Linked DNA regions of Homo sapiens. The protein of the gene in region 2 interacts with the protein of the main gene of each other region in a biochemical or structural test. Each region holds a gene or a part of one and is shown on either strand. Other genes may lie near its edges. The genes, in order: ARCN1 and COPG1.

Region 1 (4,490 bases), on a different chromosome or scaffold from region 2:
ATCACATTTCTATTCTAAAACAAAAGCTTGCAGAGAATTAAAACACACACACACACACACACACACACCCGTTATCAGTTTCTGCAGTGAACTTCTATATGAAGACATAAATAGATGGCAAATCAATGGAAACTCAAGAGAATCATTTTCTTTCTTTGCTGTCCCTCAAAACACAATTAAAAAGATACATAAATAATACAGGGGCCGGGCGCCATGGCTCACACCTATAATCCCAGCACTTTGGGAGGCCGAGGCGGGCAGATCACGAGGTGAGGAGATCGAGACTATCCTGGCTAACATGGTGAAACCCCGTATCTACTAAAAATACAAAAAAGTAGTTGGGCGTGGTGGCAGGCGCCTGCAGTCCCAGCTACTCAGGAGGCTGAGGCAGGAGGATAGCTTGAACCCGGGAGGCAGAAGTTGCAGTGAGCTGAGATTGTGCCACTGCACTCCAGCCTGGAGACAGAGCGAGAATCCGTCTCGAAAACCAAACAAACAAGAAAAAAAGTCAGAACATGTTCTCATTAATTTGCAGAATACAAAAAAAAGATCAAATCAAGGCCCGCATGCCTACAGTCCCAGCTACTTGGGATATGGAGGCGGGAGGATTGCTTGAGGCTAGGAGTTCTAGGCCGCAGTGCACTATGATAGCGCCTGTGAATAGCTACTGCCCTCCAGCCTGGGCAACATAGTGAGACCCTGTCTCTTTAAAAAAAAAAAATCAAAAGATGCCTTTCTTTGTACTTTATTTTATGATGAAGTCATGAGAAAGCATTTGTTTCTGCATTTGTTCACTTATTTATCTATTGGAACTTTGCAGTCTAGGACATTCTGCACTTCAATAACTAAAGCCAAAGGGAATTTATTTTTTAAAAAATCAATGTTTACGTACTGATATCTGCAACTTACTTTGAAATGTATATTTTTTTTTAATGGAGAGAGGGATGGATGGATGATTAGATGCATGATAAAATATAGTGAAATGTTAGTTATAGAATCTAGTTGGTGGTTATATGGGTATTCACTACAAAGTTCTTTCAACTTTTCCAGATGTTGGAAAATTTCATAATGAAATGTTGAGCTAAAATAAACGCTGGAAATTTTGATACAACTTTTAGATAAAAATTTCACCCTATCTGGACATTTCTACTGTCCAGGGATCTGTTTGTAAAGGAGCAGGACCCAAAAACATTACACAGAAATCATACCAATGTCTTAACACTCTACAGAGCAGAATGTACTGAGATAAATTGTTCTCCAGAGTACACAAATCTGTGGGTATCTGGATCATGTTAAGTCCCAAATAATTCAGAAATATGTGACACAACTCTATGTATACGTACACATGTCAAAATAGCATGCAAAAGTTATATTTTATATATATCACGTAGGGCTTTACCATCCCTCAGTTATCAATGAATTAAAAATACTAAGTTCCAAGAACCTTTTAACAAAGAATATTTTTAGAAAGATTACCTTTATCTGGTTTATATAATACAAGACCTTAACTTTACTATTAAAATAAAAATATGCTCTAAAATGCATTATTAATTCCAGGGTGTAAACGGGAACTGAGTTTCAAAATCACTAACCAAATACAGAACCTCCTGGAGAAACTGAAAATACAAGTTTCTGGAAATTTTGTGTCCAACACAAAAATTTTAGGAGGCAAACCTGTTTGATGCAATTTATATACCTGAGGCTGAGAAAAGCTGTTCAGTGGCCTAAAGTCCAAGCATGAATTCCCCCCATTATCCAAGTTCTTATCTAAAGGGTTGTCAATAGAACTTATTAGGATTGCCACCAAATTACATTCTGCCATCTCTCAGGTACACTGGACGATGTTTTAAATCAAGTTATCTATTGACAAAAGAATAAAAAAGAACAGAACAGAACATCCTTCAAAAGACTAAAGGACATAAGGTGCACTGAAAAATAAATTACTAGCTTTTTTGAAACCAAAGAATGTCTACTACTTCATGAATATCCACAAATCACAGCGATAAAGGAAGATTGAGTGATGTCAGCAGTTCTGATTTCCTCCATCCTCAACCACATTAACCTTTCTCATCCTTGTAACAGATGAGTATACAAAGATAACGCATGGGAAGGCAAGTAACTGGTCTCGGAGGCTAACCCATCCCTCTTACTCCACCTCCTGTGAGACATCTGACTACGACATGCCACATACACATTTTTCTTCACCTGGACAATAAGTTCCTTGAAGGCAAACCCTGTGTTCTCTGGAACCTGCTCACATTTTCCCAGTGGTCTACACAGTGTATGTACCCCGAGTCACACTAACAAATGGACACAAGTGAGTTCTGCGGAAGTAGTGGAAGGTTTCAGAGACACTTGGGTCCTATACATTAGTGTTAGAAGTTACTCCTTTCCGCTCTGTGTCTCCATTTCCCCCTTCTGAACAAAAAGAAAAATTTCTGGACACCAGTGGATTTGCATTTCGAGTTATCAACGGCCTAGCAAACACCGGGGGTGGGAGACAAGCTCTGATTAACAGAAGGACCAGAACCTCCGGAGACAGGCCCAGCCTGCTGAGCCTAAGCGCCAGGGAACCGGCGGGACAGCATCAGTTCCGAGGTCCGCAGCCTGGGACCCGCACCACCACCACGAAGTTCTCGCAGAGCAAAAACGCCGGGCCGTCTCAGGGGCAGGTCCCAGCAAACGAGGGAGTCCAGCTGGTTGGGGGGTGGTGCGGAAGCGGGCACGACGACAGATGGACTGGAGTCAGCTCCATCGGATCTCCAGGAGACCGGGCACAGGAGGCCACACTGCTCCCCGAGCCCGGAGCAAAAGCACTCTGCCCTAGACCCTCAGGGCGGGGCTCCTCCGGCCCCTGCCCCAGGCCCGCCGACAAGGAGAGACGGTGAGGCTCGGACCCCAGGAGTTCGGGTCCTGGCTCGGATCTTACCATGGTGAGGGCGGTGGTGGGGCGCGCCCGCACTCCGGCTCCACTGGGGATAGGGGTAGGGTCTGGGGAACGGGAGCACCAGCAGCTCTGGACCTGCTGCCCCCTTGACAGGAACCGCTGCCGCTTCGCCTCTTGCCAAGATGGCGGCCCCAAGCCACGTCTTCAACCGGAAGCGGCGCAGGTCAAAGGGCGGGGGGGGGGGCGGGGCCTGTGGGCTGGGGAAATTGAGGGTACCCCGCTCCGGTTACGATTAAGCCCAGGAGGTGTAGGGGGCGTTCACCCTCCAGCTGTGGAACCTCGTATCTCTCCCCTTTCACTGTCATCGCCTTCATTTATTTTGCGTCACATCTTACAGTTTAACAAGCCGCTGGCACAGCCACTATTATTTAATATACAGGATAACCTGTGTGCCTAAAAGACCAGTATCCGGAATATATAAAGAACTTTTTTTTTTTTTTTTTGAGATGGAGTCTCACTCTGTCGCCCAGGCTGGAGTGCAATGGCGTGATCTCGGCTCACTGCAACCTCCACTTCCCAGGTTCAAGCGATTCTTCTGCCTCAGCCTCCGGAGTAGCTGGGATTACAGGCACGCGCCACACCACGCTCGGCTGTTTTTTGTATTTTTAGTTGAGACGGGGTTTCACCATGTCGGCCAGGCTAGCCTCAAACTTCTGACCCCAAGTGATCCGCCCGCCTCAGCCTCCCAATGTTGGGATTACAGGCGTCAGCCACCGCGCCTGGCCTAAGAACTCTTATAACTCAGCAATAAAAAGACAAATACAGTATTCCTGTCTAAAAATGGGCTTCATCTGCAAAATGGAGGGAGTAGAAAACACAAAATTAAAATGAGCAAAAGATTTGAATAGATATGTGTCCAAAGAAGATATATAAATGGCTAATATGCACATTAAGAAATGTTGAATATCCTTAGGGAAATGGAAATCAGACCCGTGGTGAGACGTCATTTCACACTCACTAGGATGGCTATCATAATAATTGTTGGTGAGGATGAATGTAAAATAGTGCAGCCACGTTGGAAAAGAGTTTGGCAGTTCCTCAAAAAGTTAAACAAAATTACCACATGACTGAGCAATTCCACTCATAGGTACATACCCAGGAGAACTGAATATATGTCAACACAAAAATGTGTACTCTAATGTTCATAGCAGCATTATTCATAGTAGCCAAAAAGTGGAGACAATCCAAACAAATCCATTCATCAATAGATGTGGCATATATATGCAATGGAATATTATTTAGTCACAAAAAGGAATAAAGTACTGACATGCTACAATATGGATGAACCTTGAGAATATTATGTGAAAAAAGACGGATACAATGGGGCACTCATATATGATTCCATTAATACGAAAGATCCAGAATAGAAGAAAATCCACAGAGACAGAAACTAGCTTAGTGATTTCCAGGGGCTCAGGAAGGGTAGGAATAGAGAGTGACAGTTAATTAGTGTAAGATTTATTTCTGGAATAATTAAAACATTCTGGAATTAAGCCAGGCATGGTGGCATGATCCTAGAGTCCCAGCTACTTGGGAGGCTGAG
Region 2 (3,812 bases):
TGGCACCATCCCAGGCCTCAACTTCCTTATCTATTTAATGGAGAAGGGCGCCAGATGGGATTAGTAGCTCCCATTCTAAGGTTCCAGGAGCTAATTTCAAATTAACCATGATGAGGTCACAGAAGCTGGCTATAATGTAAAGCTCCTCACCTTCCATATCCAAATGGCGTCAATTTGCAGTTAAGGCTCAGAATAATAAAAATGAGAAAGGGAACAATTACTTAAAGATCATTTATTGCTGAAAGAAGAAAATCTGTCCAGTGGGGGCATGAAAAGAAATTAAAAATAAAGAATAGGAAGGTTGCTCACTGAATTGTAAACTTTATATAAATGGGTGAATTTTATGGCATGTGAATTATATCTCAACAAAGCTTTTTGTTTTTTAGCTAAACATCAACATACAGTGAAAGTTAAAAAAAAAATCACTTAAGGCAAGGCACAGTGGCTCTGTAATCCCAGCACTTTCAGAGACTGAGGCAGGAGGATAGCTTGAGCCCAGGAGTTCGTGACCAGCCTGGACAACATAGCAAGACCCCGTCTCAATTAAAAAAATACTTAAAAAATTATAGGGGTTAAGAACCATGGCCGAGCACGGTGGCTCACGCCTGTAATCCCAGCACTTTTGGGAGGCCGAGGCGGGCAGATGATGAGGTCAAGAGATCGAGACAATCCTGGCCTACATGGTGAAATCCCATCTCTACTAAAAATACAAAAATTAGCTGGGCATGATGGCACACACCTGTAGTCCCACCTACTCGGGAGGCTGAGGCAGGAGAATCGCTTGAACCCGGGAGGCGGAGGTTGCAGTGAGCTGAGATTGCGCCACTGCATTCCAGCCTGGTGACAGAGCGAGATTCCATCTCAAAAAAAAAAACAAAACAAAAAACAAAGAACTGTTCAACTAGATGACATGTAAGGTCCTGCCTACAATATTATGAAAAACAGCTTGTGCAGCAAGAACACTGAGTGCACAAATCCCCACTGGAGGCTCAGGTCCCTTTGCTGGGACATTTATTCAAGGGTAAGCTAAGTTTCCAAGTTCAGCCCTGGCTCAGACCTACCTGCCCGGACCTCCTCATGCTCCAAGACCACTCGGTTATAGATGAAGCGGATGTACTTTGAGGGATTGGTGGTCTTGGGCCCCTCCTGGCCCAGGAGATGTAGAATACGGGTGGCCAGCACTGTGAACTCGCAGTCCTCGATGAACTCGCACAGATGTGACAGCCCTGTCTCCTTGCTCTCTGAGTTCTCTTCAATGATGCTGATGATGCAGTCCACGATAGCGCGCTTATACTCAAAGCCACCCTGCAGAGAGAAGCTGAGCTAAGCAAGGAGCCTGCTCTCTCCAGAAAAGAGTTGAAGACCTGAGCTGGACCAAGGACAGTTGTCCAAACACAGAACTTGGAGACAGGGCACTTGGTTCTCTGGGCCTCTATCACTCTTTCCTGTCAAACAAAAGGCTGGTCAGGTGCAGTGGCTCACACCTATAATCCCAGCACTTTGAGAGGCTGAGGTGGGTGGACCACTTGAGCTCAGGAATTCGAAATCAGCCTGGGCATCATGGAGAGACCCCATCACTACAAAAAATAGAAAAATTAGTTGGGCATGGTGGTGCATGCCTATAATTCCAGCTGCTTGGGGGTCTGAGGTGAGACGATTGCTTGATCCCAGGAGGTTGAGGCTGCAGTGAGCCGTGATCACACCACCACACTCCAGCCTGGGTGACAGATGGAGGCCGGGCGCAGTGGCTCACGTCTGTAATCCCAGCACTTTGGGAGGCCAAGGTGGGTGGATCACCTGAGGTCAAGAGTTTGAGACCAGCCTGACCAACATGGTAAAACCCTGTCTCTACTAAATATAAAAAATTAGCCGGGCGTGGTGGGGGGCACCTGTAGTCCTAGGTACTCGGGAGGCTGAGGCAGGAGAATCACTTGAACCCAGGAGGTGGAGGTTGCAGTGAGCCAAGACCTCACCACTGCACTCCAGCCTGGGCAGCAGAACGAGACTCCTACTCAACAGAAAAAAAAAAAAACTGCTATCATGCATACAGTGTCTCCAAAGTGCTAGGCCTGGCCAGGCATGATGGCTCACACCTGTAATCCCAGAACTTGGGTGGCTAAGGTGGGAAGATCACTTATAGCCAGGAGTTTGAGACCAGCCTGGGCAACCCAGCAAGACCCCATCTCTACTTAAAAAAAACAAACACAATCACCAAAGTGCTGGGCCCATTAGCTGACAACTCACTAAACATTAGTGCCCTTCTACAACAACATTCTTGGGAAACGCAAAGACACTCAAGGCAATGGCTCCTCTACTGCCTAGTCCATGGGCCACTCTGGGGCTGGGTGAAAGGGGTACCATGTATCTGAGGAACAAATCTACTCCATGAACATCTGCTATTGCTCCTAAGAATTAACCCATTTTGTTGAGACGTCCAAGAAAGGTGGCATAAGTGAATCAGTAATTCACGTCGGGAACAGAAATAGAACCAATGTCGTATTATTAGCACCGGTTTCACAAGAAACCACTCCTAGAGCTCCTGGAATGGTCTAGAATATTTCTGCACTAGAGTCCACCAGAAAAGAACATGCATTTTCCCATCTTCTGCACAAGCATCACCTCAGGACATCCAGTTTTTAAAGTCAGGCTGGTGAGTCATAGTTATTACTGTAATTACTAGCAATTGGTACGTGTTTACATGTCCACAAGGAGTTTAAAGGGTTGCAGGCACCATGAAAACCAGTTGGTTAACAGGCTAACATAAGCACACGCACAAAGCTGAGCATGGAGCCAGTGGTCAGGTCACTCCCTGCACCAGGAGACCTGGCATCCCCCGAATGCCCCTGACTCTTACCTCTTCCCGCAGCATGGTGAACAGGAAGTTCATAAGGACGGCGTGTTTGCGAGGATATTTCTGACACAGGGCACTGATGGCCTGGACAACCACCACCTAAATGAAATAGACGTGCATGAGCAGCAGGCCCTGCCACCAAGATGGGGTGACTCAGTTCCCTGAGTGCCCACTGAGTCCTTCCTTAGGTAAGGCCAGGCCTTGGGCATGACACAAGGGCAAGGAGACCAGAGGAACTCAACTCCACGCTTGAAGCTTGAAGGGCACAATCCCTGAGCCCACCCAAGGCAGTGCCAACAGCCCCAGTGTCAGACTCTCAGACTCTGGGTTCCCCAAACTCTGCTCTTCTACTCAGGCTTCTTAAGTCTCCGAGTCCCCTCCACCCAACCTGTCCTGCTTCTCTCCCTACCACTGGCTCCCACTGATGGTTCCCACCCATCATCTCCTCTGGCTCCTTTTTGGTTAAGCCTGTCTCTGGGGTATTCTGTCCTTGGCCGCTTCTCTTCTCACAGTCTCTTCAGCAATCTTATCCCCTCCCATGGCTTTAACCGCCTCTTATATGCCACTGACTCCCAATATTTATCTCCTGTCTGAGCTTAAGACCTGCCTTTTCCAACTGCCTGTCAGACAACTCCACCTGGCGCCCACAGCACTTCAAACTCCACATGTCTGCAACCACAAACATCTCCATCTCCTTCCCCCTCCCTCATCCAATACCCCATCTTTTCCTCCCCTGCAAACTAGTCAAGAGCACCACTGTCAGCTCAAAGTAGAAAATGGCATCATCTCTGTTGACATCCACCCCTCAACCCTCACACCAACCCTGCCAACAGGCATTATCCCTCAAAAAGCTCTTGCACTGTCCCACCTCTCCTACTCCCGCCGGTTCAGGCACCATCCTCTCCTTCTGAATTACTCCAACAGTCTCTTTACCCAGTCACCCCTCCACTCTGCTCCAGAA

The links.
Region 1: the proteins of COPG1 (region 2) and ARCN1 form a complex in vitro, tested with the Homo sapiens proteins (one study listed by BioGRID).

The regions. Positions count from the first base shown.
Region 1 is NC_000011.10:118,570,990-118,575,479, reverse strand, and holds the start of ARCN1 (coatomer subunit delta), read right to left. Parts: upstream 3,072-4,490; 5' UTR 2,933-3,071; coding exon 2,930-2,932; intron 2,885-2,929; exon of another isoform or gene 1-2,884. UniProt on the Homo sapiens protein: Component of the coatomer, a cytosolic protein complex that binds to dilysine motifs and reversibly associates with Golgi non-clathrin-coated vesicles, which further mediate biosynthetic protein transport from the ER, via the Golgi up to the trans Golgi network.
Region 2 is NC_000003.12:129,263,042-129,266,853, reverse strand, and holds part of COPG1 (coatomer subunit gamma-1), read right to left. Parts: intron 2,951-3,812; coding exon 2,855-2,950; intron 1,306-2,854; coding exon 1,062-1,305; intron 1-1,061. UniProt on the Homo sapiens protein: The coatomer is a cytosolic protein complex that binds to dilysine motifs and reversibly associates with Golgi non-clathrin-coated vesicles, which further mediate biosynthetic protein transport from the ER, via the Golgi up to the trans Golgi network.